Homo sapiens: one gene and its partners. The protein of the gene in region 6 purifies or fractionates together with the protein of the main gene of each other region. This does not show direct contact. Each region holds a gene or a part of one and is shown on either strand. Other genes may lie near its edges.

Region 1 (3,500 bases), on a different chromosome or scaffold from region 6:
CACATTTACATGTTCACATCTCCTTTCCTACAACCCTTTTTCTTTTTCAGAAAAGTGAAACTTTTTTCTAATTCATATTTCAACAGTCCTCCTTCCAGTGCTGTTTCTCTATAGAGTGACTGTCATTTGCCCCTCCTTTCCTGTGCTCTAGAGCTTATGATACATGGCTTTAGTATAAACATCCCTCATACATCACTGGCTGGTGCTCCACATATCTTTATTCCTCCTTGCCAAAAGCAGCAGGCGATGACAAGGATCAAAGAAGCATCCTCCTTCTTGCCAAAAAAAAAAAAATCTTCCTTTGGGTGGAAGTGGCTGTGGTGAGTGTTGTTGACCCAATAACGGACCAAATAAAATGCCAGTAACTTCTTAGCAGTGTTATCAGATGTTCTTTTTTATTGTATATATATAATTCTCCAACTGTGTAGTTCTTTCAAGTGTAATTTTTTTTCTTTTTCTTTTTTTTTTTTTTTGAGATGGAGTCTTGCTCTGTCGCCCAGGCTGGAGTACAATGGCATAATCTCGGCTCACTGCAACCTCCACCTTCGGGGTTCAAGCAATTCTCCTGCCTTAGCCTCCCGAGTAGCTGGGATTACAGCCACACACCGCCATGCCTGGCTAATTTTTGTATGTTTAGTAGAGATGGGGTTTCACCATGTTGCCCAGGCTGCTCTCGAACTCCTGACCTCGTGATCTACCCCCCTTGGCCTCCCAAAGTGCTGGGATTACAGGCGTGAGCCACTGCGCCTGGCCTCAAGTATAATTTTATCTGTGTATCCACGTTTATAGGGAGAGAACAAAAGTATAGAGGGAGTAGTGACTTTGCCAGCAAGCATCTTCTTCCCCATTGGGAGTAATTCCATTTTTGTTTTTTGGTTTTGTTTTGTTTTTACTAGTTCCTGTATGCCCACATTGCCAACTTCTGTCATTACTGCCTACTACAAAGACAGTATTTACTTCCATCTCTTTTCATTCCCAAATTTAGGGTCTGAATTGTTGCTTGTATAGATTATTACTTCCACTGTCTACCTATATGGGTGACCTAGAACTCTTTCTTAATAGAAAATAAATGTACAATATCTGAATCTCTGAATATAACCTTTCTTGTCTTTTAGTTCTCATGCTGGCACTATACTTTTCTTTGACCTCATAAAAACATTCAAAATTTTTTATTCACCCTCCCACCTCCTACCTCAGGCTATTAGTCTTTCCTGTCCACCTTCCCAAACTAACCATGATCCCATTTTGATCACTTGAATTCTTTCCTCTATATCATGATTTCTTCACGTAGGTATTATGAGAGTCATCTGGCTAGATGTGGAGATGTATATTTCTGGGCTTAAACTACTCCCCTTTTAAAAATCTTTATAACATTTCAACAATATACATAGGAAAGAATAAATAATGAGCCCTGAATTCCCTTCTCCACTCATTGCCAAGATTCAATTACTACAGACTAATTTTATTTATCCTCAACATCTCCTTTCATTCCTGTATTATTTTGAGGCAAAAACTAGGTATTATATCATTTTATCAGTAAGTATTTTAGAATGTATTTTTAGGAGATAAGAGCTCTTTAAAAATATATTTCCCTAATATAATTGTTATATTAGCTGTAATTCCTTAAAGTCATCAAATATCATGTCACTGTTTTTAAAACAGCTTTATTGAGATGTAATTTATACCATACAACTCACTCATTTAAATTATACAATTAACAGGGTTTTTGTTTATTCATAGAGTTGTGCATTTATCACCACAGTTTAAGAGCCACGTACCTTTTAGTGATCACCCCAAATCCCCTGTTCCCTCCCCAGCCCTATGCAACCACTAATCTGCTAATCCACTTTCTGACTGTTTAGTAATTTTTGAATCATACAACGTATAGTTTTGTGTGACTGGCTTCTTTAACATGTTTTCAGAGTTGATCTGTGTTACAGCATATATCAGCCCTTTATTCCTTTTTATTACCAAATAATATTCTGTTGTGTAGATATACCACACTTTGTTTATCCATTCATCAGTTGATGGACATTTGGGTTGTTTATATTTCTTAAGCTATTAAAAATAATACTGCTGCAAACATTCACATACACTTTTTTTGTGGTTATCTGGTTTCATTTGTCTTGGTTGTATACCTTGGAGTGTAACTTAAGTAATAAATATATATTATACTATACTGTATATATATAGATGTATATATACATATATAATATAAATTATATATATTATATATAATATGCTGTGTACTATAATATATTTTGAAAAATTGCTCAAGTTCATTATTAAAAAGAGATTTAGGAATGACAGTTCCTGCAATATATGTGACTTAGGAAGACAGCTTACCTATTGTGCTTTTGATGTCTTGGATAGTTTGAATGCCTATCAGTTTTGTGGAAGTATTTTCTTCATTTAAGAACACTTCGTATGTCCTTACAAGCAGTACATATTAGTTATCCTTTGGTTTTTAGTGTTCTTTGACAGTAAATTTGATTCCTGATTTCTTTTTAAGGAAAAATAGCACAAATACAAATAGAGTCTAAAAGCATTACTATAAAAAAAAAAAAGCCGGAAGATAACTTACGAATGCCATGTTGCATTTCTGCCACTTTCCTCTCCTAAAGTTGGTTCCTGCTGCCTATCATGCTATTAATTTTTTAATCTCAGTTCTTCATAGAATGTACAGAATTCCTTATTGACACTCTTGGTGTTATTGTGACATATAGCTATTCAATATTGTCAGTTTTTTTAAACAGTCATGTTGGGTCTTGGAATGTTACAGATTAGCTGAGAGTAACATGGTGGGAAAAAGGCATGACATCACCAAGCCAGCAAATGCCTGGAGGTGGATTATTTAGTTTGCATAAAATGTTTTAAATGTTTAATTATGTATTGTAGACTAAACATTACTAATTATAGGTGATAGTTTACTTATACCTCTAACATTGGTACAGTGTTTTTGTTTTTTTAAAAACATTCATCTTCCTTATAGAGATTTCTGTTTGTTTTTAAGGATATTTTGGAACTCTTAGAAAAAAGAGTGAAGTCAAGATTTTCTCACCGGCAGATACACTTAATGAATTCATTTGGTTTTCCACAGTATGTTAAAATATTTAAAGAACAGTTATCTCTACCTGCAGAGTTTCCAGACAAGGTTTTTGCTGAGAAGTGGAATGAAAATGTTCAGGTATCTTAAAAGGCAATAAAGCTAAATGTTCCTTGCTATATGATTTAAAGCAATTAAAACACAAATTTTAGAAATTAGTAAATTAACACAAAGTTTCTAATATTGCTGAAGGATAATGCTGCAGTAATACAAATTATATACTTTTTAAAAATTTTCTTCTTAGACAGTTGAAATGTCATTTCTCCTAAATTCTATCTCAAAAGAACATCACAGTTAAGCTTTAGGATTTATGTTATTAGTTTGAAGTAAACTTTAATGAGGCTTTAGTTTTATCTGTATGTGGTTTATATTTTAGATAATTTTATTTTATATA
Region 2 (3,500 bases), on a different chromosome or scaffold from region 6:
ATGGCTCCGTACATCAGGCAGGTGTCAGCAAAGGCTCCAGAGGCTTCTGATGCTACAAAGCACCCAAGACTAGGGCTTCAACTCCACTAACCCAGGCTCCCTCTGGCTACCCATAATCCCCCACCCTCTGAGGAGAGCTCTCTACCTTTTTCTTCCTACACATCTTCCTATATATAACCCCTTCCACATCAGTCTCTGTCTTCCTTAACCCGTCACCCAAAAGGGTCTGACTACTGCCTCCTTCGCCAGGACTTCGTGGTGCTCCACCAGATTCTAATTCACCATCAAGACTTTCATTCTGACCACTTTTCCCTAACAGCCTGCATTAGCTCTACCGCTTCTCCCCACCCCACAAAGACTCCGAAGTGAGGACTGCACCAGTCCTGAAACACGTCAAACTCAGCCTTCCAGGGACAGGCTCACCAAGAGTCTAGAGTGAAAGGAAGAGGGAGGGGACAGAGAAAAGGTACCGATGTGAAAACAGGGTAGCTCCTGCCCTCAATATCATGGGGAAAGAAGACAGCCTCCATTCAATATTTTAATAAGAAATAATACATGTTACCCAATGACAAGCCAATGTGCAAAGCAAGTAACATGCCAAGTCTTCCAGGGGATAAGGACCACTAGAGGCCACCAAGGCAGTGATTCTCAAACTCATTCTGACAGCAGAACTCAGGGAGGTGTGATATTCTATGAGGGACTGCTTGAAATGTTACCCCAGGAAAAGGAAATAAGCAAATACTCTTGGCTGTCACATAGATGACACTTCATACTAAATTCCTGAATGGCTAAGTACAGTGGATGCCAAATATTAAGGTAAAAATTATGAAAGAAAACCTTACTGCTGAGAAAATTCTATCCAGTTAACCAAGTCTGCTCAGCACCTTGGAGAGGGGGGCCAGCCATCATTCAATGTCAGAACCCACACACATTACGCAGCTCCCAGAATACCAGGCTCTCGGGGAGCACAGTACGTGAGCCTCTGCCCAGAACCAGTCTTGAACAAGTAGGATGGGGTTTCCAAAAGAGAATAGGCAGGAGCGGAGGAACAGCATGTATGATGGATGGTGTATGGGAGGAAAAACATAAACCAGCAAAGAGACAGGCAGACCCATGAGAGTGCATCTCCATGCCCCACCCAGCACCAGCACCATCATGGACCACTCAGACCTCTGCTGCCTACAGCCCTGGAACTAACCACTCACCCAAGGTCAGGGTCCAAATCAAGCCACCAAAACTGTGGCTTCCATTAATTATATCACCTGGAGAACCTACTGAGGACAGCTGAGTGTTAAAGAAATGCAATCCCAGTAACTAACTTAGAGTGTACCACAGCAAAGGAGATGGCACTTTAACAGGAACATCTGGGCCAGCGCATTAGCAGCAGCATGACAAACATGATGCCATCAAAGCAGACACAACTGCTATAAACCTTCACTATAAAATCACCCTTCAACTTCTATAAAAAGAGCGCATGTGTACTGGGCACAATGACAACTCAACCCCCCAAAGTACAGACAAACGGCTTTAAACAGCAGCAGCTGGAGGCCATGGCATCTTGTCACTCCACTCATGAGCCGCAGGCCTGTGGGGACCCAGCAAATGGGCTCCCTAAATGTCTGGTCCCAGGGGGAAAGAAAGCCCTGCTGAGTTGCTGAACAGCCCCAGGGAAGAGCTTTTCCTCACTGCCCAGCCTCCTTCCTGAGAGGCCTCCAAAGCAGCCGACTGGTAGTGAACCTGAGGCAGGGGTGAAACAGAGATGCTGCAGACACCGCCTCCAGGCGAGGCCTGCCGGGCAATCCAAACTCAGCTCCTGGCACAGCATCGGCCCTGTACCAACCCGCAGGGGAGAGCCAGGCAGAGCTGGAATCCAGTAACTGAATCATCCTCCCATGAAAAACTCCAGCTCCCCAAAAGCTCATGCAGGGGCGGCCACCGCCACCTGCTCCCCCAACGCCCTCCCCGGGATATTGCTGGGTCCCCACCTCCATGCAGGCCGCAGCGTGGTGCCCAGGCAGGGCAGGTGAGGCAGTCCAGGGGCACACAGCCACCTTACCTCCGAAGTTGGCCAGCCGGCCAATCCTCGTCACAGGCACCTTCCGCTCCCGGGCATGCTCGCTGAGCTGGAGGGAGACGAGAAAGAGACCTGTGGAATCAGCCAAGGGGACAGGACCAACCTTCAGAGGCTCCTGTTGCCCCCACATCTCCTCTCCACCCCACAGTCAGCAGCTCCGCCTGACAGCACACTCCACCAAGAGAAGGCCACCACGCTCCTAAAAACCCCAGACCACAGCACCCAGGAAAAGTCCCTAGAGCAGAGCCCAAGGCCATCACTGCTGTGGGTGGCAGCTACCTCGGCCCTCCAGGGGCCTCCCATACGCACCGTCTGTTTGTGCTGCTTGTTCTCGGGGCGAGCCTTAGCCTGCCGGGCCTTCTCAATGTCCTCGGCTGTGAGGCCCCCAACAGGGGATTGGTCCTGGTGGAAGAACCTTCGCTGAAAGCCCATGGCAGAGAATGAGTCTCTGGGGTTTGCAAAGAGCCTCCCGTTGGCCCTGCCCAGAGGGGAGGAGGCCTGGCCGGGGAACCCGGCTTCTCTAAAGGGTCCACTGGCCACGTAGGCAGGAGCTGGGCCCTCGCTGTGGGCATGACCCAGGGATGGGGGCGCTGACTGGTCGGGAGCGGAGGCTGAAGAGAAGTCTGTGGAGGCTCCGGCTGCATGCGGGACTGAGAAGTGGAACTCCCCTTCTGGGCCGCCGAAGTTCTCAGCAAAATATTCTTCATGTTTATCCTGACCCTGCAGGGAGCAAAGGCCAGCATTAGGAGAGCAAGAGCGAGCCAGGAGCTCCTCCCTGCCTGTCCCCTGCTGCCCAGGACAGCACACCACCAGCATCCCGCCCCCTCCCACCTCCAGAGGTGGCACAGTGCTGCACCTGAGGCCCGGCACCCTTCCCAGCCTGGGAGCCGGGACCTGGGCTCCAGCCCTGCTTCTGTTGGGGCTCTGCTGTGTGGTCCTAGGTGGGACACTGAGCACCTACTGTGTGCCCAGCCGGGGCCAGGCCAAGTGCACACTACGCCCGCAGCGGGTTCCTCACCTATAAAACAGGGCCAAGAAGGCCTCCAGGGCTTTGGAGATGGTAAACCAGGGCGCAAAAGACAGGGAAAGCTCTGAGAGGTGAACACACAGCCTAAGGCCAGCAAGGGGTGAGGGAAGCACACCGACGGGCCCACCTAAGCCCACAGCTTACTGCAGACATGGATGCCACCCACCAGCCGGGGTATGCATGTAAGAGATCCTCACTGGAGAGGTGGTTACAACCAGGACCAGGCCTGGCCGTCCCTAAGAGCTCAGGGTACAGGGAAATGGAGGGGCAGGGGAGAGGATACGCCATGTTTTCTTTGTGATGGTCACCAAGGCCTGAGCTTCGGGCCCAGGTCCTTTCTGCTTCTGAACCAGGAGTGACCTTGAGTGAGCTCCTGACCCTTCTCTGCTACTTCCTCAT
Region 3 (3,500 bases), about 31 Mb from region 6:
AAAATTAGCCAGGCGTGGTGGCGGGTGCCCGTAGTCCCAGCTACTCGGGAGGCTGAGACAGGAGAATGGCCTGAACCCGGGAGGTGGAGCTTGCAGTGATCGTGCCACTGCACTCCAGCTTGGGCGAGATCGTGCCGAGATCGTGCCACTGCACTCCAGCTTGGGTGACAGAGCGAGACTCCGTCTCAAAAAAAAAAAAAAATCCAAGGGTGCTCAAGTCTCTTATATAAAATGGTGTCGTATTTACATATAACGTACACACAACTTCCCTGTATACTTTTGTTTTGTTTTGTTATGAGACAGGGTCTCCTCTATCACCCAGGCTAGAGTGCAGTGGCACAATCTTGGCTCACTGAAGCCTCAAATTCCTGGGCTCAAGCAGTCTTCCTGCCTCAGTGCTCTAAAGTATGAGGATTACAGGCATGATCCACTATGCCCAGCTTCTCCTGTATACTTTAAATCATCTCTAAGGGCCAGGTTTACGCCTGTTATCCCACCACTTTGGGAGGCAGAGGGAGGAGGATCGCTTGAGCCCAGGGGCTCAAGACCAGCCTTGGCAACACAATGAGACCTCCACCTGTACAAAAAAAAAAAAAAAATTGCCAGGCATGGTGGCACGTGCCTGTGGTCCCAGCTGCCCAGGAGACTGAGGTGGGAGTATTGCCTGAGCCCAGCAGGTTGAGGCTACAGTAAGCCATGATTGTGTCACTGCACTTCGGTCTGGGTGACAGAGTTCAAAAAAAAAAAAAAAAAAAAGGGCAGGATGCAGTGGCTCACGCCTGTAATCCCAGCACTTTGGGAGGCTGAGGTGGGCGGATCATGAGGTTAGGAGAGCGAGACCATCCTGGCTAACATGGTGAAACCCCATCTCTACTAAAAATACAAAAAATTAGCCAGGCGTGGTGGCAGGCGCCTGTAGTCCCAGCTACTTGGGAGGCTGAGGCAGGAGAATGGCGTGAACCCGGGAGGCAGAGCTTGCAGTGAGCCGAGATTGCACCACTGCACTCCAGCCTGGGTGTCAGAGCGAGACTCTGTCTCAAAAAAAACAAAAAAATCTGTAAATTACTTGTAATACCTATTACAATGGAAATGCTATGTAAATAACTGTTGTATTCTTTAATTTGTATTCTTTTTTATTGTTGTATTGTTTTTAATTTTTATCTTCCCCCAGTGTTTTTGATCCTCTGTTGAGGGATGTGGAGCCCAGGGATAAGGAGTATATCTGGCAAAGCAGCAACTCAGACTCATTGGCAGGCCCTGTGGCCCTGGATGAACCTCTTAGCTTCTCAGCCTCTTCTATAAAGGGACATCCTAGAGTTGTGCTGAGGATTAAGTATAATGAAGTAGGCCGGGTGCAGTGGCTCACATCTGTAATCCCAGCACTTTGGGAGGCCAAGGCAGGCGGATCACCTGAGGTCAGGAGTTCAAGACCAGCCTGGACAACATGGTGAAGCCCCGTCTCTACTAAGAATACAAAAATTAGCTGGGTGTGGTGGCACACACCTCTAATCCCATCTACTCAGGAGGCTGAGGCAGGAGAATCACTTGAACCCGGGAGGTGGAGGTTGCAGTGAGCCGAGATCGCGCCGCTGCACTCCAGCCTGGGCGACGGAACGAGACTCCGTCTCAAAAAAAAAAAATACACACACACACACACACACACAGCCCTTTCTTGGTCTTCCCTCTGTGGTGTGCTTCAAAGATTCCTTCAGCTTTACAGTCATTCCCAACAATAGACATTTTACCTACTGGGACCCTCCATTCCAGTCCAGCTGGAATATTTGCCATCTCCTAACACATATCTGGTTTTCTCCCACCTTTCTTTCCTTCGGGCCAGTCCCCGGTTGTACATTGCCTTCTCCTGTCTCTCTGTTGCCCAGCCCCACCGCCTCTTCTTCCCTGAAGCTGTCCTATCTCTCCTGCCAGAAGGTAGACACTGTAGAACTTCTGGACTGTCATTCTTGCGACACCATCCATATTTTTGCCCCTATTGGGTTTTGTTTTAATTTACTGAGGGGCTCTCCCATAGAGTTTAGTACAGTACTTATTTATAATGGGTTCTTATGTAGGTGGTTTTTTTGTTTGTTGTTTGTTTGTTTTTGTTTTTTTTGAAATGGAGTCTGCCTGTGTCTCCCAGGCTGGAGGCATTGGCACGATCTTGGTTCACTGCAACCTCTACCTCCCAGGTTCAAGTGATTCTCCTACCTCAGCCTCCTGAGTACCTGGGTTTACAGGTGTGTGCCACTGCACCCAGCTAATTTTTGTATTTTTAATAGAGACGGGGTTTCCCCATGTTGGCCAGGCTGGTCTCGAACTCCTGACCTCAGGTGATCTGCCCACTTCAGCCTCCCAAAGTGCTGGGATTACAGGCGTGAGCCACTGCACCCAGCCGATATAACAGGTCCTCATATAGGTTTATTTAAAAAGTGAATGAACCATTTGGGTGCAGGGCAGAATGATCAAGGGTGGAGTTAAATATCCCCTTGCATCCTAGGCATGGGGAGTCTTTTGCACCCTCCCCAGCTTCTTTGAGTTGGGGTTGCCTGTTCCTCCTTGCGCCTGCTCTACGGTGACCAAATTAAGGATCAGACCTTCCTTCCCTGATCCTGGGCTGGCTGGTTTTGGTGGTGGTTTTTCTCAGTTTTGATGTGGTGGGTCTTCTAGCTTTCTCCAAGTTCTGTGCGTGGGTAAGCACCGCTACGTATGAAGCTGACTGCAACTTAAAAACTGGTGCTAAAGTTGCTTCCTCAGAGAACTGGGTAGGGGCCTAGAGTATCTATAACTGTGCTACTTGAAGAAAGACCCAGGGCCACGTGGCATCAGCATTCCTGGGAGCATGAATCAGAATCGCAATCTGCAATTTATTTATTTATTCTTTTTGAGATGGAGTCTCACTCTGTCGCCCAGGCTGAAGTGCAGTGGCACGATCTTGGCTCACTGCAACCTCCACCTCCTGGGTTCAAGCGATTCTCCTGCCTCAGCCTCCTGAGCAGCTGGGATTACAGGCGCGCACCACCACGCCAGGCTAATTTTTTTGTATTTTTAGTAGAGACAGGGTTTCACCATGTTGGTCAGGCTGGTCTCGAACTCCTGACTTCATGATCCGCCCACCTCAGCCTCCCAAAGTGCTGGGATTACAGGCGTGAGCCACCGTGCCCTGCTGCAATCTGCATTTTAACAAGATGCTCAGGTGACTCTGTACCCCAGAGTTCCAGAAGTCCTGGCCTAGGCATCCTTCTTTATACAGAATCTCAAGGCACAGAGCTTTCCTGTTGCAACAGTATAAATTGGGAGCTGAGATGCTGCACAGTATTTGAAGATTTGCTTTAAATAACTCACTTTATGCGAACACTCCTTGGGGTGATGTGTACGCTTTAATATTACCTCCTTTGGGTTTAAATTGAATTAGATTTTGTCAAGAAATTTCTCCATTAAATGTGTGACTCTAGGAAGTCTGCAATATTCAGCCTGATGTTTAGCTCCTCTCAGAACCTCAGCTT
Region 4 (4,268 bases), on a different chromosome or scaffold from region 6:
GCCTGGGAGGGAGGATTGCCTGAGGCCAAGAGTTCAAGACCAGCCTGGGCAGCATATTGAGACCCTGTCTCTACAAGAAATTTTAAAAATTAGCTGGATATGGCGATGCATGCCTGTAGTCTCAGTTACTCTGGAGCCTGAGGTGGGAGGATTGCTTGAGCCCAGGAATTTGAGGTTGCAGTCAATTATGATTGCACCAATGTACTGGGTGACAAAGCAAGACCCTGTCTCAAAAAAAAAAGTATGGTCTTTGAAAAGTCACATTAGCATCACCTGGGTACTCGTTAAAAATGCAAATGTTTGGGTCCCACCTCAGACCCACTGAACCAGAAACTCTGAGGTTGGGACCTGGAGATCTATGGTGCCCCCGGGTGATCCTGGTGGGCTGCACTGCAAGGACACCTGGCCTGGCTCCTGCAAGGCAAGGCATCCCTCTCTGCTTTTCTTTCTTTCTTTCTTTCTTTTAAAGACAGAGTCTCACTCTGTCACCCAGGCTGGAGTGCAATGGCTGGATCTCAGATCACTACAATCTCCACCTCCCGGGTTCAAGCAATTCTCTTGCCTCAGCCTCCCGAGTAGCTGGGATTACGGGCGTCCGCCACCACACCCGGCTAATTTTTGTATTTTTAGTAGAGACGGGGTTTCTCCATGTTGGCCAGGCTGGTCTCCAACGCCTGATCTCAAAAGATCCGCCCGCCTTGGCCTCCCAACGAGCCGGGATTACAGGCGTGAGCCACCGCCCCCGGCTGTCAGTGTGTCTTGAGGTCTTTCCCTAATCCCAGATGGCACAAGTTTTCCCTCTTGCAGGCAGAGAAAGGAGCCTTGGGAAGGAGCCCCTCTGGCCTGAAAGATCAAGCCTATTGCTGGGCATGGCCAGGTAAGGAAACTCCAACCGTGGAAAGGACATTCCAGGGAGGTGGTGCTGAGATAAGGGGGGCAGAAAGAGACAGGTTTGGGGGGCCAGTGGCTCTGGAATGAAGCGCTACACTCAAGGCTAGGAATAGTTACTGAATGCACATACACACATACCATTCTCACAGCCCAGGTGCTGCGTCTTAGAGCGTGTGAGTGTGTATGTGTGTGTCTGTGTGTGCGCGCGCACGCACGTCTCTATCTCTGTTTCTGTCTTTCTCTGACTTGTCCTTATCTCTTGTCTCTCCATCACTCTCTGTGTCTCGCTGTCTCTGTGCATTTCCATGTCTCGAATATGTGTGTGTTTCAATCTGTCTCTCTGCCTCTTTCCATTTTCTCCTCTCTATCCATCAATCTAAGCCTGCCCATCTTTTTGTCTGCCTTTCTGTATCTCCGTTCTTCTCTGTCTCTCTGTCTCAGTCTCTCTGTATCCAGGGATTCTCTTTCCCAGCAGCGCCAGTGCGACTCCATGGGAGGTGGGGCCGGGGCGCGTCTTTGAGAGAAGGGGCGGGTGCCTACGCCTTTAAGCGCGGGTGCGCGCGGAGCCTGCGCCTTTAAGCGCCGGTGCGCGCGCTGCCCTGGGTTGCCGGCGAGGAGGCCGCGGGAGCGCCTGGACCCGGCCCGCCCAGCCCGGCCCCCGCCCGGCCCCCGCCTCGGCCCCGGCGGGGGAGGGGTCTCTGAGCGCGGCCCCTCCCCCCTGCGCCCCCGCCTGCGCTGCGGTGCCCCCATCCCGCGTGTCCCAGTCTGTCTGACCGTCCCTCCGCTCCCAGGCCTCGCCCCACCCGGCCCTGGGGCTGCCCGGTCGCCCCCCTCCCCACCGCAGCCGGTCCCCTCCCTCCCAGTCAGCCTCCGCCGCAGCCCAGGAAGCCAGCCGGGACGCCGCCGCCCCGGACCCCGCGCCCTAACCTCCACCTCGGGGGCCTGCACCCCCAGATTGAATCGGGAATTCCGGAAACCCGAGCCTGGAACCCTGATCTGGGACCAGCACCCCGAGATCCGGCCGTGGAACCCCAAGATCTGGAGCCTGAACCCCAGTATATGGGGCTGGAATCTCAACATCGGTCACTGGGACCTCAATATTTGGAGCCGGAACCCCACAATTTGGAACACAGACCCCAATATTTGGAGCAGAACCCCAAGATTTGACATCTAAAACCTCAAGCCTGGAGCTGAACTCTGAATTCTGGGCCTGGGACCTTGAAATCTGGGACTGGATTTCCAGTACTGTACCCTGGAACCCACTCTTGGGGACCTGAACCCTGGGATTCAGGCCTCAAATTCCAAGATCTGGACTGTGGGATTCCAAGGGGCCTGAACCCGAGTTTGGGCCTGAAGTCCTTGCTGCAGACCTGAGTGCTTAAATCTGGGGCTTGAGACCTCCCAATCTTGACTCAGCACCCCAATATCTGAATGCAGAACCCCGGGATCGGATCTCAGACTCTAAACCCCACCGTTTGGCTGCTTAGCATCCCAAGACTGGACCTGGGAGACCCTGACCCTGAACAACCCAAACTGGACCCGTAAAACTGGACCCTAGAGGCCCAATATTTAGGGGTCTGGAACCCCGAGTATTAAGGTCTGGAGACTCCGTTGCCACAGATTTGAGCCGAGTCAGGACACAGTCCCTCTACAGAAGCCTTGGGGACAGGAAAAGCATGACCAGATGCTCCCTCCAGAGCCCTGACCTCTGACTCCCCTGGAGCTAGGACTCTGCTCCCTGGGGCTGCTTCTAGCTCAGGTAAGGCTGCTGAAACCTCAAGGTGGGGACGGGCTGGGAGGAGCATTGTGGCTGCGGGTTACGGTACCAGGTACCCTTTGACACTCTTGGGGTTTCTCCAGAAAAAAAGACATTCCCCCATGGGTCTGCCTTCAGCTCCTGCTCTGCTCCAAACACTCTCTGGACACTGGCCATCCTTGCCCCTCTCTGACCTTCCCTGCCTCAGTTGATGGGACCTCCAGGTCTCTGACCCCTGCAACCCTTACAGCCTTTCGCTGTCTATCCGGTCCGACCGTCTCCGCCACCTCTCTTGTCCACCACTCCTCTCTCTGGGCTCCTTTCTCCACCTGTCCTCTCAATGGCCATCTCTGTTCCCTTTTTCTCTCTCTGATCATCTTTGTGACACCCCTGTCCACAGGTCCTCTCTCCAGTCGCCTCTGCCTGCTGCTTCTCAGTGACCATCGCTGACATCTGTGTCCACTGTGCCTCTCTCTAATCATCATTCACCAGCTCTCTTGCTCCTTCTCCACCCCTGAATCTAAGCCTAGGTCTGTGACCGTCCCCATCCATCTTTGACATTGCTGTCCACCACTCTTCTCTCCAGCAGCCTCTGTCCATCTCTCCTCTCTAGCTTCCTCTGGCCACCTTTCCCTTTCTCTGGCCATCTCTCCCACTGCTCTTGCCCTCCTCCCACCCCTGACCCTAACTCCCAGTCTGCAACTGTCTGACCATCTCTGGCCACCTCTCCTCTCTCTCTCACTCACTGATGCCCTCTGATCATCTCTGGCCACCTCTTCTCTCTCTCTCACTCATTGATGCCCTCTTGATCATCTCTGGCCACCTCTTCTCTCTTTCTCACTCACTGATGCCCTCTTGATCATCTCTGCCCACCTCTTTTCTCTCGCTCGCTGATGCCCTCTGATCATCTCTGGCCACCTCTTCTCTCTCTCTCACTCACTGATGCCCTCTGATAATCTCTGGCCACCTCTCCTCTCTCACTTGCTGATGCCCTCTGATCATCTCGAACATCTCTGCTGCCTTTCCTCTCTCCGATGACCTCTCCCCGCACCATCCTCCTGAGCAGCTGTCCTGGGCTCCCACTGACTCTGCCATGTCTGTCCTTTTCCTCCTCTCTGACCACCTTGCTGGCTTTGGGCCGTTTCTGACCACGTGTCTCTGACATGGTCATCTCCCCCAGATCTGAGCCCAACCCATGCCCTCCCTTCTCTTTGTCCACTGCTCATCTTCCTGACCATCTGTAACCCCTTCTCTTCTCTGGTCATATCTGACCACTTCTGATCATTGTTGCCACCCTGGCTGCCCCGTCTCCCCATGGCCAGCTTTTACCATCTCTGACCACGTCTAAAGCCCTCTGGTTTTCCTGCCACTCACCCAGACCAGCTGTCATTTCTCTGACCATTTCTTTACTTTTTTCTTTTGGAGAGACAGAGTCACGCTCTGTTGCCCAGGCTGGAGTGTGGTGGCGCAATCATAGCTCACTGCAGCCTCAAATTCTTGGGCTCAAATTGATCCTCCCACCTCAGTGTCCCATGTAGCTAGGACCACAGGTGGGCGCCACCATGCCTAGCTAATTTTTAAAAATTTTTGTATAATAGATACACGGTCTCACTTTGTTGCC
Region 5 (3,500 bases), on a different chromosome or scaffold from region 6:
AGCAGCATGCACTCGATTCGCAGCTGGTAGCTGGGGATGGCACAGACAGGGATCAGTGGCCTGCACCCCCCACCTGTCCCTGCCAGAGGGGCACTCAGCACAGGGCTCTGGCTTGGGTGGTGGGCAAAGGGAGGGGGTTTCCACCGCCTGCCCCATCCAACAGGCACCCTCCCGGGCCTGCGCAGAGCAGGATCCAATTCCTCCAGAGGCCTCCAGCCCCACACTTTGAGGGGAAGGACTGGGGGTGGGGCTCGAGTGATGTTTAGAAGCCCAACCGCTGCAATGCTGCTCCTGGAGCCCGGGGCAGCCATTGGCACAGCCTCTTCTCCTCCCTGGCTGGGCCCTGCTCCCTATTCCTGCTCTCCTCCCACCTGGGGCCCAGGCCCTGGGGTCTGAGGGCGGCCATGCTCACCAGGGAATGGCCAGCAGGAGGAGGTAGAAGTGGTCGGCGCTGGCCAGCTTGGCTCGCTCCTCTGTGAATGCCCGCAGGTTTTCAATCTGCCAGGAGGAGAACGGCATGTGGGATCCCCCCATGCCAGCTTCCCGCCCTCCCGGACTGCCCGCCGGGCTCAGCCCCTCCAGTGCCCATCATGGCTCCCTGTGGCTCACGGTTCAGGGCAGAGGTAGGGCTGGGATGCCTCCCTTCTCTGTCTCCCTGCTGGGAGCCCCCGGGACAGCCTCTCCCTTGGTTGGTGGCACTAACTGGGGGTGGGGTGTGGGGGTGGTCCTCTTACCTCGTGCTTCTCGGGAAGGAGCTTAAGGAGTTGTTTGAGAACCTCCACATCAAACTTGGTGGTATCTCCAGCCCGGATCATAGCAGCGACCTCCTCGTTGGAGCTGGAGCAGGGAGAGGACCGGGCAGGGGTGAGTGAATCATGAGTCACCCCCACCCAGCCTCTTTGGGACCCCACCTGGCAGGGTTTCCCCACGTAGTCATGGGGTGGCCAGGGCAGGGGGGACACAGAACAGTCGAGTTGTTGCCCACGGTCACGCGGTGAAGGGGACCCAGGCTGACTCCCACCCTCGCTACCCTCCATGGGCCCTGCTCAGGAGATGCAGGATGGGTCGGGTCCAGCCAGCTCCCTCGGGCCAGTGCTGGACACCCGCAGCAGGAAAGGACTCGGGGGCTGAGAGTCAGGGCCCACTGGTTTAGCCACTACTTGTCTGTGGCCTTGTGGGGGGAGGTCCCAGCGCTCTGTCCCTGGGAGCCTGGACAGCCCCTAGCTGGGGCAGCATGGGGCTATTACCCGCCTACAATCCTGCCTAGGGGATGCAGTGTGCACTTCCCATGGCGGCCTGCAGAGGGCACTGCTGGGCCCAAGTCAGAAGGCTCAGGTGGAGGCGAGGCTCCGTGGCCTGGGATGGGGGCTACCTCCCTCACTCACCACTTAAATTGCTTCAGGAAGATGTTGAGGTTCAGGCTCTTCTTGGCATCGAGGAAAGTGATCTAGAAAACCCCCCACCCAACAGGCTGGTACCGGAGGGTGGCCAGGCAGGCGGCCCCGGTCTGAGTCCCCTCCCCGTCCCCACCTCCTTGGGCTCCTTCCTGGCCCGGGGGGCCACCATGGTGGGCTCCTTGGGCTTGGCTGCAGGGAAGGAGAATAGTCGCTCGATGCTGGAGAAGTCGGGCTCCACAGCCTCGGCGTCGGGGCTGCTCAGGGACGCCCACATAGAGTTGTGCTCTGTCGGGTGGGGACACGGCCAGTGAGGCTCTCGCAGCCCCGGGGCCTGGCGATCCAGCAGGCAGGGGCTGGAGCCTCCCAGAGGGTCTAAAGGATGTCCTGCCTGGGGCCCAGTAGGTCCAGGTCCAGCGTACAGCAGGCACCCTACCTCCCTACCTGAGCACCTGTAGCAGGGCCCCAGGGCACCATGGCACCCCAGATGCACTGGCTCACGGGAGCATGTGGAGGGGGGTCCTCAGAGGTAGCCCCTGCCCTGCTCCTCCCCCGTCCCCACCTCAACCACAGGCGCCGAGCCCAGAGCAAGGGCCAGGCTGCCCTGGCCACGCACGGGCAGGACGCGCACACAAGTTCCATGTGCCACCTGCCCCTCTCCCCAGCAGAGACCAGCCCCCGTCCTAGGGGAAGCTTCCCTTGGGGGTCTGGGGACCCTCACCACGTGCCACGTTGGATGGCAGCTTCTGCCAGTTCAGCTTCTTCATGCGCAGTGTGGGTGGGTTCACCCGCCGATGGCTGGGGACCCATGCTGAGCCCAAGCCATGGTCCACCTGGGCCACGATGACCTCCTCCATGCCTCCCGCCACGGGGGGGCTGCAGGTGCAGGGCAGTAGTGGAGGTGGGGGTGGAGGAGGGCCCCAGCCCATACCAGGCAGCAGGGGTGGGGGTGGGGGCGGGCATCCCAAGCCCGGGAGTGGTGGAGGTGGTGGGGGCAGGAACTCACAGGAGCCTGGCAGGGGTGGTGGTAGAGGAGGTGCTGGGGGGGCCATGGCCCCCAGGCCTGGCAGGGGTGGGGGCGGGGGTGCTGTTGGGAGGGCCTTAGCCCCCACACTGGGCAGGGGGGGTGGTGGGGGAGGGGGAGGGGGCTCGGCACTGGAACCAGGGAGCAGGGGTGGGGGTGGGGGTGGGGGTGGGGTGGACGCCTGCTGCTCCAGGGCTCTGGGCTGCGAAACTTTCAGGATGCTCTCACTCTGGGCGTGGTCCACGGGCTCGCAGGCAGCAGCTGCTGCTGGCTGCTGGCCCTCCACGCTGGGCTTGGGGGTTGTAGTGTTTTGCGGGGAGCTGCCCCTCTGGCTCTGGTCTAGGTTGGCCTGGACGCTTTTATGGGCCTTGACCAGGGGGCTCGGTCTGGGTCGCCCCTTGACAGACAGGAGCCGCTCAACCACTTCCTCCAGGGTGCATTCCTGGGCTGCAGTAGGGGATGTCCAGGGTCAAGGGAGAAGGGAGCCGGAGAGGGAGGGATGGGGGCTTGAGGAAGAGGCAGGAAAAAGCGGCCACCTCCCCTGGGCAGAGGATGGGTTGGGGCCAAGGGCAGGCTCCCCCCCCCATGGTCTAAGACCTCAGTGTCTGCCCACCAGGCTGTGCCTACGCCCCTGCCCCGCCCCCTCACCATCGCTGGCCAGGAGCACGGCCCGGTTCACGAGGCTCTCCAGGGCCTCCCAGAGCAGCTGGCTGGAGCGGAGGGTGGGCTCCAGGTGCAGGAGGCCCTGCAGCACCGACAGGAGCTGGGCAGACACCGGGGAGCAGCTCACCTGGACGGGCGAGTGTGGGGTGCAGGTCAGCAGCCGGCCCCTCCCTGGTGGACTAAGGACTGTGGCCTGTCTGCCAGGGTGTCCAGCCCCATCACCCCCTCTATTCCCACGGATCCCTAGAGATGAGAGTTTCAGCGACTGTGGTACTGGTGACATGTGGGACTGTCCTGTGCATTATGGGATGTTAAACAGAACCACTGGTCTCTACCTACTCAATGCCAACAGCACCCCCTGCCCAGCCGTGGCAGCCAAAAATGTCTTCAGATGTTGCCAGATGCCACCTGGGGACACA
Region 6 (3,500 bases):
AGAGCTTACCTAAGGTTTCACTGTTAGATACAATAGAGCTATTATTCAAACTCTGGTCCAGTGTTCATTCCAACAGCATGATACACTGCTACTTAAAATAATCTTCATCCTCTACACCAAGCCCAGTGGCCATTATCTTGCTTGAATTAAAGAAATGCAAGAGAGCAAAATACACCATTCCCTGGATTTCAGAGGTAGAAGTTCGAAGTTATAAAGGAAAAGTGAAAATTATTAAGTATGGGGGTACACATGATGAAATACAAAAGAAAAGTGGGAAGGAAAAGAAAGACAAGAATCAAAATTTTAAAAAATGATAAAACTATTAAGAGGAGGGAAATAAAAGAGGCAAAAATCAATAATACTTCTAAAAAGAGCAGAATCATAGAACTAAATTGAGATAGTTATATAAAATCATAAAATATTTGTCTCTAAGTTACAAGACCAGAAAAAATAAAAGAATAAGCGATAAAAAAGAAATTAAATGCAACTCAACAGTCTATTGTGTAAAATGTGCTTCAGACTTGGGCATCAATGATAGAGCAGAGTTTAACGGTGGCAAGAGCACAAGAGGTAAGGATGGTCAATCTTAACCATTTTTTTTTCTTTTGAGATGGAGACTTGCTGTCGTCCAGGCTGGAGTGCAGTGGCGCGATCTTGGCTCACTGCAACCTCTGCCTCCCGGGTTCAAGCAGTTCTCCCACTTCATCCTCCCGAGTAGCTGCAATTACAGGTGTGCACCACCATGCCCGGCTAATTTTTGTATTTTTAGTAGAGATGGGGTTTCACCTGTTGGCCAGGCTGGTCTCAAACTCCTAACCTCAAGTGATCCACCTACCTTGGCCTCCCAAAATGCTGGGATTACAGGCATGAGCCACCACGCCCGGACTATCTTAACCATTTATTAATGGTTTATTTTCTTCTCTCCTAAAGTATGAGCTATGAAGTCTCTTTTGGAAAAAAGTTTTCTCTGGTTTTTGAGTAAAGGTTCCAATTTCGGGGTGCTCCTACTAGAGACCTCATTTACCACAAACAAAATCTATTCAGGTAATTTTCTAGTTAGTCCTTTCTCTAAAAAATAAACCCCTGTTATCATCCAACGTTATTTTTTGGTTCATATTCATACCAAAGAATGACATCTTTAAGAAGAAGAGAAGGAGACACACGGTAAGAAGTAAAACAAGAGAGAAAAGAAAATTACCTCTCCTAGTCCTTCTAGTGCTCTGAGTACAATGAGTGGTCCAACTCCTAAATCTGCAGCAATGGGAGTGAACAGGGTGAGGACAGCAGTGCCAAGGATCCCAAATCCTAGCAGCATTTTCCCCCCTATTTTGCTGGCAACATATCCTCCAGGAATCTGTGTGATGATGTAGCCATAAAAAAAGGAACCGAGAATCCATCCTTGAGTTTCTGCATCCCATTGGTACTTCTTACCCTACAAAAATCAGAAAAGAATAAAACAATCCTTTAAGACCTTCACAGAGCAGCTCTTTTCTCTTACTGGCATGTAAGTACATATAAATGAGATTTTGAACCACTATTTTGGACTGAAGAACATGCAAACTTTCTAGTAGGTGGGTGAGTCATAACAATATAGATATACAGTATTTAGAAGTGAATGAAAAAGAACTGACAGTCGTAAACTTCAAGAAGGCTTGCAATTTTATAAAACTAGACTGCAGGATGAGCTGCCAGAAGCTTTATAATAACTATGACCAAGAAGGCTCACAAAAGAATCACAAAAAAGGCTTGGGTATCTCTGAGCCTACTATGGCTCGGGAGGCTGCCGCCCCCCCGGCCCTGCCTCCCCCTCCCAAAAAAAGAGTCACAGGCTTAATCCAGAAAGCTATTAAGCAGAAAACTGTAGTGGCTGAGCTAGGCTTTGGGAACCAGGCTTGGTTTTAATCCTAGCTCTATTACTTACCGAATGTGTGATCTGGGAAGAGGAAATGAAATAGGCACATAAAATAAGGCTTGATGTACAGTTAGTGTTCACTTAGTGCTGGCTATTAACATGCATAAATGTAGATATTAATAATATCTCCCCATTTCAGACGAAGCACTTAAACAAGCACATGGAACAATTCCAAAGAGCAAGAATTTAAATCAAGCCACAAACTTCATGTGAATAGAACCTGTGTTTTCATTAGTAACAGCACACAGCAAGGTACTAATGAAGATTTAGTGACTGATCTGAGTATCTGACATTTTTAATGCAGTGTAGCTGTATAACAAAGCCAACATGTCAAGAACCATTCCGGGATTTCTTTCTACTGCTGATATAAGGCAGATGAAGATAAGTAGCAGGGTCAACAAAAGCACTTTGCAAAGAAAAAGACACAAAGCAAACTCTTACTTTTCCTTATTTAGGGTACCAATTTGCAGTTTATCTGTGGAATTCTAGGATTTCATGTACATTCCAGCAGTATTGTCCCTGAAGGTCACAGGTTGGAGTGGAGAAAGTGAGTGATGTGTACCCAAATGTTACTCAGCAACATTATTAAAGTCAAATATAAAGATTTTCGGAGAGATTTATTTTGTTTAGAGAGAAACCCTCTTTCCTGCTTGAATGCTCTGCTTGTGAATGATAGAGGAGATTCATCTAAGTATGAACTAGTATCTTCGTGAGCACTGAAAATGGGTGAAAATTTATTTATTTATTTATTTATTTATTTTTAAATTTTTTTTTTGAGACGGAATCTCGCTGTGGCCCAGGCTGGAGTGCAGTGGCGCGATCTCGGCTCACTGCAGGCTCCACCCCTTGGGGTTCACACCATTCCCCCGCTTCAGCCTCCCGAGTAGCTGGGACCACAGGCGCCCACCACCTCGCCCGTCTAATTTTTTGTATTTTCAGTAGAGATGGGGTTTCACCATGTTAGCCAGGATGGTCTTGATCTCCTGACCTCGTGATCCATGTGCCTCGGCCTCCCAAAGTGCTGGGATTACAGGTGTGAGCCACCGCGCCCGGCCAAAAATTTATTATTTTTTATTTATTTATTTTTTTGAGACGAAGTCTTGCTCTTGTTGCCCAGGCTGGAGTGGAATGGCGTGATCTCGGCTCACTGCAAACTCCACCTCCCAGGTTCAAGCAATTCTCCTGCCTCAGCCTCCTGAGTAGCTGGGATTATAGGTGTGTGCTACCACGCCCAGCTAATTTTTGTATTTTTAGTAAAGACAGGGTTTCACCGTGTTGGCCAGGCTGGTCTCGAACTACTCACCTCAGGTGATCCACCTGCCTCAGCCTCCTAAAGTGCTGGGATTACAGGCATGAGTCACTGCACCCAGCCTGCAAATGTACTTCTAAAAAGAATACTAGCTTTTCTTTCTGTACTATCTCCTCGTGTGATAAGCAACATAAAATGAAGTATATATAACTTAATTATAAACAAATGATGAATACACATTTATTAATACCACTATAACATAAGGCAGGCAAAATGACTTATGTGGCTTAGGTTGGGCATGTGTACATTCAGAAAAGAATGTCCTAAGAAACTGGCCAG
Region 7 (3,500 bases), about 30 Mb from region 6:
TCCTAACTTGATTGTCCTACCCTCAACACCTATCAGAAGAGGTAGCCTTTAAGACTTAGCCATAGTTTTTCCAGAATTGTTTTGTAAGCCAGCACAGAAAATGACTGATGTCAAAACTGCATTTTCTGAAAAGCAAGTACATTGTTGCAGTTGACCTAGATGTATATTCACTTTTGGCCCATCAATAAAATCATGAGGCAAAGCTGACGTGTGGTACAAATCTTGTGCGGATTCCAGTTAATGGACCACTGCATATATAAAACCTTTTCCCAAGAATTTTTGTGTTAGTATTTTGGTTAAATGTAGATCATTTTTGCCCATTCATTGACAGGTACAAAATCAAAAGTATAATTTCTTAATGAAATCTCCAGTGTAATCAAATGTAGAAATCCATGCTATTCTCTTGTAAAGACAAGACTTCTAAAGTGGTTCTATTGACTTTATGCATTTTGGTGGTCAGGTTTCGGTGGAACGGCATGTCTCGATTGGAGAAGGTGTATCTGAAGAACAGTGTCATGGAGCTGATTGCAAATGTAAGGAATGGGTGGTTGGGAGACATGTTTCCAAGGTAGTTTAGGCAAAGCGTGACTTCTTCAATAGGGAGTTTGTGTAAAAATTCACTGCTTCTAAATAGGTCAGACAGCACAAGAAATCATAATTTAGGCCAGGCACAGTGACTCACACCTGTAATTCTAGCGCTTTGGGAAGCCAAGGTAAGAGGATCACCTGCATCTAAGAATTCGAGAGCAGCTTGGGCAATGCAGTGAGACCCCATCTCTACCAAAAATGCAAAAATTAGCTGAGCGTGGTGGCGCATGCCTGTGGCCCAGCTACTCAGGAGGCTGAGGTGGGAGGATTTTCTGAGCCCAGGAGGTCCAGGCTGCAGTGAGCTGTGATGGTGCCATGGCACTCCAGCCTGTGCAACAGAGCAAGACCCTATCTCAAAAACAAAACAAAACAAAAGCAGAAAGCATAATTCAGCATATGTCTCTTACTAGGTTTAATTAATCATGCTTATGTATTGACTTCTATTTTTTAAATTATAAAGACAGGGCAGAGGGGATTAAATATTTTCAACAAATCAATAAGATTCTTAGATCTAAATTAGATTGAAACACTATTTTCTTTTATTCCAAACAACTACTATGTGATACTAATGATGAAAAACATGCAGAATTTTAAGTATGCAGAATGAATTTGTTTCAAGTATTAGAATATGACTTTTTTTTTTTTTTGAGACAGAGTCTCTGTTGCTCCGGCTGGATTGCATTAGCATGATCATAGCTCACTGCAGCCTCGAACTCCTGGGCTCAAGTGATCTTCTCGCCTTAGCCTCCCAAGTAGCTGGGATTATAGGCATGTGGTACCATGCCCAGCTAATTTTGTTTTTGGTTTTTAGAGAGACAGGGTCTCACTGTGTTTCCCAGGCTAGTCTGGTCTCAAACCCCTGGCCTCAAGCAATCCTCCCACCTTGGCTTTCCAAAATGCTGAGATTACAGGTGTGATGACTGGATGACTGTCTCTTTAAACACAAAACAGAATATGACTTTAAACATGTTCAAAATTGTAGCCTTTTTTCTTTCTTGGTTTTTTTTAAATAACAGACATGAGAGATGGGATCTTCTAATACTTCTGCGTCTTCTAGTGTTAGAACTATTGGTAAAATATTCATTTGCCCCTTCATACCCTTCCATTTTACCAGCTACTCACTATACTCCTTATTTCTATACTCTTCCTCCCTGGCCTTCTGCAAACTGAAACAATCAATATGAGAATCTTTTCATTTTGTAAAGAATAATGATGTCATCCTAGCTCTCGATATGACAGCCTTTTAGGTGATGCAACCCTCACTTAAGCTTTAAGCGGAAGAGTGATTAGCAAGAATGCAGGACAAGTGACTCAGGCTGAAGAACAGGTTCATTTGTTCTGTTTGGTTTAAAAGTAGGCCTGCTGATAAATTTTTTACAACTCTACAGCCCAGCTTTTTTCTGGAAGTCTGGAATCCAGTCTTGCATATCTCTTAATATCTCTTGTTCTTTTTCAGGGAACATTGAACATTTTGGAAGAGGAGAACCATATTAAAGATGCTCTGTCTCGAATTGTAGTGGAAATGATCAAGCGAGAGTGGCCACAGCATTGGCCTGACATGCTAATAGAATTGGACACTCTTTCCAAACAAGGGGTATGAAACACAGCTATATCAGTTTGGTATACTTTTCCTTGGAACAAACTTCAGGGTTTGTTGTTTGATTTTGTTTGTGGGTTTTTTTTTTTGGCAACAGAAAATAGCCTTTGGATATACATAAAATGAAAAGATATTTTAGTTTTTAACTAGCTTATTTCTATTGGTGTAGGAAACACAGACAGAATTGGTGATGTTTATCCTTTTGCGACTGGCAGAGGATGTAGTGACTTTTCAGACACTTCCCCCTCAAAGAAGAAGGGACATCCAGCAAACATTAACCCAGAACATGGAAAGGATCTTCAGTTTTCTGCTTAACACACTTCAAGAAAATGTAAACAAGTATCAGCAAGTGGTAAGGGATACCCCTACCTATAACATTTCTATTTTCCAATATGAGTGTTTTTGATTAATCTTACAGTAAGGAACTAGGGTGTCTAGGTCAGCAAAATGAAATCCTATTTTATAAGCAAAAAAATAAAAAACTAGGAAATGACAGAAAAACTGGAGCTCATTTTCTTTCTTTTTTTTTTTTTTTTTTTTTTGAGACGGAGGCTCGCTCTGTCACCTAGGCTGGAGTGCAGTGGTGTGATCCCGGCTCACTGCAACCTCTGCCTCCCAGGTTCAAGCGATTCTCCTGCCTCAACCTCCCAAGTAGCTGGGACTACAGGCGCCCGCCACCAGGCCCGGCTGATTTTTTGTATTTCTAGTAGAGACGGGGTTTCACTATGTTAGCCAGGAAGGTCTTGATCTCCTGACCTCATGATCCGCCCGCCTCCCAAAGTGCTGGGATTATAGGTGTGAGCCACGGCACCTGGCCTTTTTTAAAAAAAAAAAAAAAAAAAAAAAAAAAGATAGGGATCTCGGCTTACTGCAGCCTCCACCTCCTGGGATTACAGGCATGTGCCACCACACCTGGCTAATTTTTGTATTTTTAGTAGAGATGGAGTTTCGCTGTGTTAGCAAGGCTAGTCTCAAACTCCTGACCTCAGGTGGTCTACCCACCTTGCTCTCCCAAAGTGCTGAGATTATAGGTGTGAGCCACCGAGCCCAGCCCTAGGTGTTATTCTTAATTTTATTTTCAGAAGTTCTTTAGGAAAATACTAATTTTTTTTTTTTTTTTGGAGAGGGAGTCTCACTCTGTCACCCATGCTGGAGTGCAGTGGCACAATCTCGGCTCACTGCAACCTCCGCCTCCTGGGTTCAAGCGATTCTCCTGCCTCAGCCTCCCGGGTAGCTGAGATTACCGGTGCCTGCCACCATGCCCGTCTAATTTTTGTATTTTAGTAGAGATGGTGTTTCACCATGTTGGTCAGGC

What was found.
Region 1: the proteins of SLC17A5 (region 6) and ORC4 purify together in Homo sapiens (affinity purification with mass spectrometry; one large-scale study listed by BioGRID and IntAct). This does not show direct contact.
Region 2: the proteins of SLC17A5 (region 6) and COQ8A purify together in Homo sapiens (affinity purification with mass spectrometry; one large-scale study listed by BioGRID and IntAct). This does not show direct contact.
Region 3: the proteins of SLC17A5 (region 6) and PTK7 purify together in Homo sapiens (affinity purification with mass spectrometry; one large-scale study listed by BioGRID and IntAct). This does not show direct contact.
Region 4: the proteins of SLC17A5 (region 6) and LRFN3 purify together in Homo sapiens (affinity purification with mass spectrometry; one large-scale study listed by BioGRID and IntAct). This does not show direct contact.
Region 5: the proteins of SLC17A5 (region 6) and INF2 purify together in Homo sapiens (affinity purification with mass spectrometry; one large-scale study listed by BioGRID and IntAct). This does not show direct contact.
Region 7: the proteins of SLC17A5 (region 6) and XPO5 purify together in Homo sapiens (affinity purification with mass spectrometry; one large-scale study listed by BioGRID and IntAct). This does not show direct contact.

The regions. Positions count from the first base shown.
Region 1 is NC_000002.12:147,947,738-147,951,237, reverse strand, and holds part of ORC4 (origin recognition complex subunit 4), read left to right. Parts: intron 1-3,013; coding exon 3,014-3,187; intron 3,188-3,500. UniProt on the Homo sapiens protein: Component of the origin recognition complex (ORC) that binds origins of replication. DNA-binding is ATP-dependent. The specific DNA sequences that define origins of replication have not been identified yet.
Region 2 is NC_000001.11:226,964,294-226,967,793, reverse strand, and holds part of COQ8A (atypical kinase COQ8A, mitochondrial), read right to left. Parts: intron 2,795-3,500; coding exon 2,384-2,794; intron 2,124-2,383; coding exon 2,057-2,123; intron 1-2,056. UniProt on the Homo sapiens protein: Atypical kinase involved in the biosynthesis of coenzyme Q, also named ubiquinone, an essential lipid-soluble electron transporter for aerobic cellular respiration.
Region 3 is NC_000006.12:43,079,314-43,082,813, forward strand, and holds part of PTK7 (inactive tyrosine-protein kinase 7 isoform a precursor), read left to right. Parts: intron 1-3,500. UniProt on the Homo sapiens protein: Inactive tyrosine kinase involved in Wnt signaling pathway. Component of both the non-canonical (also known as the Wnt/planar cell polarity signaling) and the canonical Wnt signaling pathway.
Region 4 is NC_000019.10:35,934,906-35,939,173, forward strand, and holds the start of LRFN3 (leucine-rich repeat and fibronectin type-III domain-containing protein 3 precursor), read left to right. Parts: upstream 1-1,468; 5' UTR 1,469-2,650; intron 2,651-4,268. UniProt on the Homo sapiens protein: Cell adhesion molecule that mediates homophilic cell-cell adhesion in a Ca(2+)-independent manner. Promotes neurite outgrowth in hippocampal neurons.
Region 5 is NC_000014.9:104,706,618-104,710,117, reverse strand, and holds part of INF2 (inverted formin-2), read right to left. Parts: intron 3,209-3,500; coding exon 3,067-3,208; intron 2,866-3,066; coding exon 2,116-2,865; intron 1,683-2,115; coding exon 1,531-1,682; intron 1,448-1,530; coding exon 1,386-1,447; intron 838-1,385; coding exon 735-837; intron 499-734; coding exon 413-498; intron 31-412; coding exon 1-30.
Region 6 is NC_000006.12:73,640,493-73,643,992, forward strand, and holds part of SLC17A5 (sialin), read right to left. Parts: intron 1,433-3,500; coding exon 1,199-1,432; intron 1-1,198. UniProt on the Homo sapiens protein: Multifunctional anion transporter that operates via two distinct transport mechanisms, namely proton-coupled anion cotransport and membrane potential-dependent anion transport.
Region 7 is NC_000006.12:43,569,539-43,573,038, reverse strand, and holds part of XPO5 (exportin-5), read left to right. Parts: intron 1-460; coding exon 461-533; intron 534-2,044; coding exon 2,045-2,182; intron 2,183-2,354; coding exon 2,355-2,537; intron 2,538-3,500. UniProt on the Homo sapiens protein: Mediates the nuclear export of proteins bearing a double-stranded RNA binding domain (dsRBD) and double-stranded RNAs (cargos). XPO5 in the nucleus binds cooperatively to the RNA and to the GTPase Ran in its active GTP-bound form.